2 separate regions of the Homo sapiens genome follow, and region 2 is linked to region 1. The links come from fine-mapping of genetic effects on gene expression. Tissue or cell type: prefrontal cortex. Region 1 holds a variant in brackets; the other region holds the start of a gene. All regions are shown on one strand. Distances are from middle to middle. Region 1 overlaps WDR64 (WD repeat domain 64). Region 2 holds the start of WDR64 (WD repeat domain 64).

The links.
Region 2: it holds the start of WDR64, and the variant in region 1 is fine-mapped to the expression of WDR64 in prefrontal cortex (GTEx, PIP above 0.99). The same link has a PIP of 0.9 or more in cerebral cortex.

The regions. Positions count from the first base shown.
Region 1 is chr1:241,688,497-241,692,893 of GRCh38, reverse strand. All of the region lies in intron 8 of WDR64 (WD repeat domain 64), which reads right to left. The region is part of intron 1 of LOC124904603 (a long non-coding RNA gene); the gene reads left to right. Among named protein-coding and RNA genes, the nearest start is that of WDR64, 38 kb to the right of the region's middle. The variant C/A (reference allele first, on the strand shown) is at 2,559.
Region 2 is chr1:241,650,692-241,655,088 of GRCh38, reverse strand. It overlaps WDR64 (WD repeat domain 64), which reads right to left and starts at 2,808. Exons shown (of 28, transcript NM_001367482.1): 1 at 2,460-2,808. The coding sequence starts at 2,604.

The DNA of each region.
Region 1 (4,397 bases):
ATTTTGACCACTCTAATATGTATGTACTGGTATCTTATTTTAATTTACATTTCCTTCATGACTTAAAGTGTTTTGCATCCTTTCTTATGCTTATTTCCCATCTGTGTATCTTAGTATTTATTCAGATCTTTTGTTTATTTTTCAATTGGGTTGTTGGTTTACTTATTATAAAGTTGAAATAATTTTTTGTATATTTTGGATAACAGTCCTTTATCAGATATGTCTTTTGCAAATACTTCCTTCCAGTCTGTGTCTTGTCTTCTCATTCTCTTGGCAGAGTCTTTTGCAGAGCAGAAGGTTTCAATTTTAATGAAGTACAGCTCATCAATTATTTCTTTGTTCTAGAACCATTTGTTAAAAAGAATATCTTGCTCCATTGTATTCCCTTTGCTCCTTTGTCAAAGATCTGTTGACTATATTTATGTGGGTCTATTTCTGCTTTGTTGATCTATTTTTTCCATTGTTTTACAATACCGCACTATCTTTATTACTATAGCTTTATGTCTTGACTTGTCAGTCCTATGATTTGTTTCTTCCTCTTCATTATTGTGATGAATACTCAAGACCTTTTGCTTTTCCATATAAATGTTAAAATGAACTTGTCAAGATTCACAAAATAACTTCCTGAATTTTGGGTGAGATCGCATTGACTCTACATATCAAGTTGGGAAAAACTGGTATCTTGACAATAGTGAGTCTTCTATTCATGAACGTGGAATATCTCTTCATTTAATTCCTTGATTTCTTTAATTGGAGTTTTGTGGTTGTCCTCATTTGGATCTTGCATATTTTGTTAGACTTATACCTAAGTATTTCATTCTCAAATGCGAATGTAGATGGCATTGTGTTTCTTTTTTTTTTTTTTATTTTTTTATTTTTTTGAGATGGAGTCTTGCTCTGTTGCCCAGGCTGGAATGCAATGGCACAATCTCGGCTTACGGCAACCTCTGCCTCCTGGGTTCAAGCAATTCTCCCACCTCAGTCTCCCAAGTAGCTGAGATTATAGGCACCCACCATCATGCCTGGCTAATTTCTGTATTTTTGTAGAGACAGGGTTTCACCATGTTGGCCAGGCTGGTCTTGAACTCCTGAGCACAGGTGATCTGCCCGCCTTGGCCCCCCAAAGTGCTGGGATTACAGGCATGAGCCACTGTGCCCAGCCTATGTTTTTAATTTAAAATGCCACTTGTTAATTGTTAGGATATAGGAAAGTTATTGACTTGTATATAATAACCTTGTATTGTGCAAACATGCTATACCTGATCTTAGTGGGAAAACTGTCCAGTACTATAGATGATGTTAACTGGAGGTTTTTTGTAGATGTTTTTTACAAGTTGATGATGTTCCCTCTATTCCTACTTTGCTAAGTGTTTTTATAGTAACTCCTGTTTTCTTTTGATAAGTGTTAGCATGGTATATCTTACCCTATCCCTGTACTTTTAATCTATATGTGCCATTATATTTAAAGTGGGTTTCTTATAGACAACATAGAGTTAGGTCTTGTTTTGTGATCACTCTGACAATCTCTGTCTCTTAACTACTGTATTTAGACCATTGACTTTTAAAGTAATTATTGACATAGTTGGATTAATATCTACTATATTTGTTATTGTTTTCTATTAATTGCTGCTTTTCTTTGTTTCTATTTTTGTCTTTTACTCTTTTTCTGCCTTTTGTGTTTTAAAATAAACACTTTACATGATTTCATTTTCTCTATTTTCTTAGAATATAAGTTACACATTTTTTAAAAAACAATTTTTCGTGGTTGACCTATCATTTGCAATATACATTTACAACTAATCCAAGTCCACTTTCAAGTAACACTGTACTACACAGGCAGTACAAGTATATTAAAATAAACAAAAATCCTAATTCCTTCCATTATTTGTATTATTGCTGTCATTTATTTTGCTTACACATAGCAAATATACCATATATACATACATATATGTTTATATGTGTATATATTGTGTATATAATTGAATACATTGCTGTCATTATTATTTGAACAAATTATCTGTTAGAAAAGTTAAGAATAACAAAAATAACAATTTTTATTTTACCTTTACTTTTTCTTCCTCTGATGCTGTTCTTTTCTTTATATAGATGCAAGTTTCTGACTTACGGCTTTTCTTTCTCTCTGAAGAACTTCTTTTACCCTTTCTTGAAAAGCAGGTATACTGATAGCATATTTCCTCAATTTCTGTTTGTCCGAGAAAGTTTTATTTCTCCTTCACTTTTAAAGGCTAATTTCACGGTATACAGAATTCTAGGCTGGTAGGTCTTCTAACACTTTAAATATTTCACTCAACTGTTCTTGCTTATGATTTCTGAGGAAAAATCACAAGTAATTCTTGTCTTTGCTTTTCTACAGATAAGTTGTTTTTTTCCCCTCTGGCTCATTTCAAGTTTTTGTTTTTTTTTTGACAGAGTCTCCCTCTGTCGCCCAGGGTGGAGTGCAGTGGTGTGATCTCGGCTCACTACAACCTCCGCCTCCCAGGTTTAAGCAATTCTCCTGCCTCAGCCTCCTGAGTAGCTGGGATTACAGGTGTGCGCCA[C/A]CATGCCCAGCTAATTTTTGTATTTTTAGTAGAGACGGGGTTTTACCATGTTGGTCAGGCTGATCTCTAACTCCTGACCTTGTGATGCACCCACCTTGGCCTCCCAAAGTCCTGGGATTACAGGTGTGAGCCACTGCGCCCAGCCAGTTTTTTTCTTTATGTTTACTTTTCTGCTGTTTGAACATGATATGCCTAGGTATAGTTATTTTTTGGCATTTATCCTTCTTGGTGCTTTCTGATATTACTGGATCTGGGGTTTGGTGTCTCATTTTAATTTGTGGACATTCTTAGTCATTACTTCAAATGTACCTTTTCTTCCTTTCTCCCTTTCTTCTTCTGGTGTTCTCATCACACATATGTTACACTTTTCACAGTTGCCCACAGTTTTTGGATATCCTATGGTTTTTTTTGTTTTGTTTTGTTTTTTCAGTTTTTTTCCTCTTTGCTTTCTGTTTTTGAATCTTCTATAAATTCTTTCCTCAGCTACGTCCGGTATACTAATGAGCCCATCAAAGGCGTTACTCATTTCTATCAGTGTTTTTGATCTTTAGAACTTTTTATTCTTAGAATTTTCATCTCTCTGTTTACAATGCCCGTCTGTTCTTGTCTGCTGCCTGCTTTATCCGAGCCCTTAGCCTGTTAATTGTAGTTGTCTTACATTCCCATTCTGATAATTCCAACCTCCTTGCCATGTCTGCATCTGATTCTGATGCTTGTTCTGTCTCTTGGAGTTGTAGTTTTTGCCTCATTAATTTTGATGCTCTGTTGTTAGGTGCATCTGCATTAAGGATTGTCAGAGCATCTTTAAGAATTGACCCCTTTATCATTATGTAATGCCCTTCTTTATCCCTGACAATTTTCCTTGCACTGATATCTGTTCTATATAAAACTAGCATAGCTTCTTCTGCTTTCTTTTGATAAGTTTTAGCATAGTATATCTTTCTGCATCTTTTTATTTTTAGCCTATATGTGTCTTTATATTTAAAGTGTGTTTCTCATAGACAGCATATAGTTGGGTCTTGTTTTTTTGATCACTCTGACAATCTGTTTTGTGCCTTTTAGTATGCCTTGTAATTTTTTTCTTGATAGCTGGACATGATTTACTGGGTAAAGGGAACTGCTATAAATAGGCCATTAGTAACATGTCAGTAAGCTGTGGGGGAAGGTGAATCCTGTGAGTAAGTCTCCTTCTTTTGATGAGCCTGTGTGTCTGGATTGCGAATTTCACAAGTGCTTGTCAGTCTTCCTCACCCTCCCTCTTAGGTGCGACCAGAGGTTAGAGTGGATGTTTTCCTTCCCTCTGTGAGTTATTCCCTGACAAAGTTCCAATAGCTTAGACTCTGATAACATAGTTTCTCTTGAGGGCATACCTTGGAAAGAACAACATGTTCTGGCACGTTTCAAAATGGTGCCTTTTCCTTCCCCTCCGCCAGAAGTAAGAGAGAATTTTTCACTGATACTCACTTTAAGAATCTGTTGAACTCCTGGAAGTAAAACTCACAAAAGCATAGGGGCCCCTATGACTGGGCACCCCTGGAATTTTTAACTCTAAAATTGTCCATGCTGAGCACTTGTCCATTACAATTTAGGTTTTCCTGCCCTATACTGGTTATTCAGGGGGTTCCTGCCCATGAATTTCTGCTCCAGTAAGTTGTGATTCCCAGTGTTTGCCCCTCTGTCTCTCCAATGTGGGGGCAACAAAACTGCCTTGTGACCTTACTTCTCTGATGGATCTAAGAAAAATTATTTATTTTTTAGTTTGTTACATTTTTACTTGTTAGGATGGAATGGCAACTTCCAAGCTCTTTACATGCCAGACTGGAAGGCAGCCAGGAGTCT
Region 2 (4,397 bases), 38 kb after region 1:
AGTAATAGGCTGTTGTAATAAGCCAAGAGATAGATACCATGACATAGTGAAAGGTTACAGAGTTTGAGTATCCATTATCCAAAATACTTCGAACTAGAAGTGTTTCAGATTATGGATTTTTTTCAGATTTTGGGATATTTACATATACTGTACATAGTGAGATATCTTGGGAATAGGACACAAGTTTAAACACAAAATTTATTTACACTTAATATACACCCCTTATACATATAGCCTGGAGGTAATTTTATACAATAGTTTTAATAATTCTGTGCATGAAACAAAGTTTGTATGCATTGAATCATCAGAAAGCAAATATTAATATGCCCCTATCTCATGTCAGCTCTCAAAAAGTTTTGAATTTTGGAGCATTTTAGATTTTGGATTTTGGGATCAGGGATGCTCAGCCTATACAGCCTATACCAAGATATCTGGCTTAGGAAACTAGTTAGATGGTAGCTATGCTCTAAGACTGAGAGAGAACACAGTAGGCAAAGCTCAAGGAGAAAAAGAAGCAAAGAAAGAATTGAGATGGGAAAAATAAGAATGATGTGATGAAAGACGCAGGATAAGGAAGTTTCTTGAAGCAGAGGCAGCTAACAGTGTTAATCTAGTGCAATGGCCAAGTAGGCTGGAAAATGAAAACAATTTATTGAATTTGGCAACTATATTAGCTTATCACATAGCTTGGTTAGAGCATTTTCAGCAAAGTGATCAGAGAAGCCAGACCTGAGTAGATTGAAAGTTAAGTGGTGATATTGTCAGGAAATTCAGTGGAGAAGGAAAGGAGAGGCATACAGTGGTAGCTTAAAGAAAAGAGAAAGTCAAGGTCATGATGCTTGAGTATATTTTTAGACTGAGAGGACAAATCCAGTAGAAAAGGAGATTTTGAAGCTGCTGCAGCAAACTGATAGCTTTGAAGGGGAGGAGAAATAGAAAGGACAGCTGCTGCTTTCAGTGATTCAGAAGTGGAAAAGGGGGGTTTGAGAGAATTCTTGTCTTTTGACCTTGCTTTCTTTTATGACGTAGAAAACTTGGCTGAGAGAAGCAGACATCCCATAGAGAATTCAGAAAAAGTGTCAAGGGTTTGAAAAACCAATTAGAGAGAGGTAAAACAAACTGACTAGGAAAAAATGCAAGTTTTGTTGAGTAGTTTAGAAGGCCCAGTCAAGTTCCCAATCACCGAAAAAGCATATCCAAAAGGTCCAAGTCTTAGCTTTAACACTTAGAAGTTGGGTGACTTTGGCCGGGCACGGTGGCTCACACCTGTAATCCCAGCACTTTGGGAGGCCATGGCAGGTGGATCACCTGAGGTCAAGAGTTCAAGACCAGCCTGGCCAACATGGTGAAACCCCGTCTCTACTAAAAATACAAAAAATTAGCCGGGTGTGGTGGTGGGTGCCTGTAATCCCAGCTACTTGGGAGGCTGAGGCAGGAGAATCACTTGAACCTGGGAGGCAGAGGTTGCAGAGAGCCGAGATCGCACCATTTCACTCCAGCCTGGGCAATAGGAATGAAACTCCGTCTCAGAAAAAAAAAAAAAAAGAAAAGAAAAGAAAAGAATTTGGGTAACTTGGGCAAATGATTTATCTTCAGCTCCCATTTTTTCCACAAATAAAATGAACATAATGACATTGATTAACATGACTATAAATTATTAAATACTATTCAATTAATACCAGCTTGGGTTTGAACACCCAAAGTCAAGATTTTCACTTACAAATTACTATGCAGCCTGGCACACTCAGAGGCTGGCTATACTATCCCTTTAGCAATTATATGGGCTCTGCTCCTTTCATTGCAACAGCAGGGTTTGTTCTGTTAGTCTTTCACTCTGCCATGTAGCTTTATTTTTCACAGCTGTCCTCAATACGCCAAAGCTGTACACTACACCACTCCCCTTGAATCTTGTCTATGCACTGGCATCTCTGCTGCAAATCCTCCTGTAAGACCACTGTCCACCATATTCTCCTTAGCTTGCATCCTCAAGATCATTCCTGCCTAGAGATATGGAGAGTGGCCAAGACAATGGAATCATGGTGAGGCAGGAAGCTGCACTTCTTATGAAAGTCTTTATGGTCTCATGATATCTTTAGGCTAAGAAAAAGCAGTGCTATACATTACTGAGCATCCCAGGTCAACCAGTGAGCCATCAAATGGCAGCGTCTACAGAAGAACACTGGACGTCATTTAATCCAATCCCATAGTTTTACAATTGAAGCAACTTCGGTTCAGAGAAGTAAAAAAAAAAAACAAAAACAAAAACAAAACAAAACAAAAGCTTCCTCATGTCCGCTTTGTTATTTAGGGACAGAGAAAGAACAAGAACTGAGGTCTTCATCCCCTTTCAGCACCCATTCTTTCACATTAAGCTCTGATGCTTCTCTCTGATGGCTTAAAACATTTTCCAGTTCTAACCAACAGACCCAATTGGACTATCGTGTAATCACTGATCTTACCTTCTTTATGGATAAATAAGCCTGCTCTTTCATCTCTTTTCTGGGCTGCTGTTTGTTCAACCAATTTTTCAAACCTGTTCAAAGCCTTTTTGAAATTGCTCATCTGAAGTGCCATGTTGAGACGCTTTTCCTTCCTGATATCCATAGGGACATAGGGGATCTTTTACTTCTGTACAGAAAGAATACTGCAAGTTTACCAATTTGGAAAACTTTCCAGTTGTTACAGTGCCTCCCTGCTGTCTCAGTTTTTGCCCTAGGTCTAATTCCTTTGATCTTAAAATCCCATAGTGCGGGTAGGAGTAAGAGTTGCCACTAGGATGTTAGCAGGGAGGAAAGCTGATTTAGGTCTGATGCATTTCATACAGACAAACATTTCAGTAAAAATCCTGACCTCACAATGTCATCAGTGTCCTTCATAGGGTCCTCATTGCATCATAATATCTCTGTAACATCCTACTTCCTTCATAAGGAGGAGATTGAGATATTTTTTTCCCCACAGACTGTGTGTGTGTGTGCGCGTGCACATGTGTGTGTTGTGTATACTGCTTGAGAGGGAAAAGGAATGAGTAAATAACAAGTAAGAAAACTGGGTAATACTTTCTCCCTCGTGTATCTCTTCTCACCTCAAACCTTTTGCCTTCCTCACAATACCGCGGAAAGTAAAGTTTGGCCAGGCACGGCGGCTCATTCTTGTAATCCCAGCACTTTGGGAGGCCGAGGTGGGTGGACCACCTGAGGTCAGGAGTTCAAGACCAGCCTGGCCAACATGGTGAAACCCCCGTCTCTACTAAAAATACAAAAATTAGCTGGATGTGGTGGCGGGCACCTGTGATCTCAGCTACTCAGGAGGCTGAGGCAAGAGAATCACTTGAACCTGGGAGTCAGAGGTTACAGTGAGTTGAGATCACACCACTGCACTCCAACCTGGGTGACAGAGTGAGACTTCCTCTCAAAAAAAAAAAAAAGTAATATTCACACTTATTCTTGCCACTGTACTGGATATGGAAATTCGAACTTCTAAAGATGAAATGTATTTCAGCACCTGTCATTTCTACCACAAACATTTTTAGAGGTCATAGGGAATACAAATGCTCTTCTTCCTTTGTGCATTGTCCTTCGATTGAAATAATAAAGTGAGCCAAGGATAAGGAAGGAGTGGCTTCTGATTATGAGGACAGCTTTTCAAGGTAAGAGGTCAGATGAATTAGAAGAGGCCTTTCTGCACATCTCCTTCCCAGTCATTGCAATCTCCAATCCGACTTAGTCCAAATGCTATTGACTCCGGTTTTCCAATTTTCAACTTTTTATGGGAAGGAGAAGTTGTTTAATGTTTCTCAACAATTAGTTAACTTCCTATGGCTTAGGTGAGTTAGATAAATTTCCTACCCCTTGGTAGTCCATCTTTTAAAACATTCTTCAAGAACTTGCATTCAGAGATGAAGCAGATGGCATTTCAGAGCACCTCCAATTCCAGTACTGTCTTCTTGGTGTCCACCTCTAACTATCTGTTAGGAGAGCGCAGTAAGATTTTATTTAAAGAAAAATCCCCCAACCCCATTTGTTTCTCCTCCTTTTTCCTTTAAAGCTTTCAAACCACTGTACAGTGATGTCTGGAGAACCACTCTTCCTACAATTCTAATGCATTCACCATTAATTCATCTAGGAAATATTTACTGAATACACACTTCATGCTAGAGGCTGTTTTAGACACTAAGGATACAGCAGTGAATAAAATAGCTTCTCAAGTTTATAGACTAATGCAGAAGACAGACAAACAAATAAATAATGTATCAGTGAGCAATTGTGCTACGAAGAGAGAGGAATTTTGTGTGTATTAGGGTGGGGGTAAAAATCAAAGTAAAAGAGGTAGGGAGATCAGGGAATTCCCCATTAATAGAAAGATTTCTGGGCAGAAACCTGAAAGAAGTGAGGTAGCAA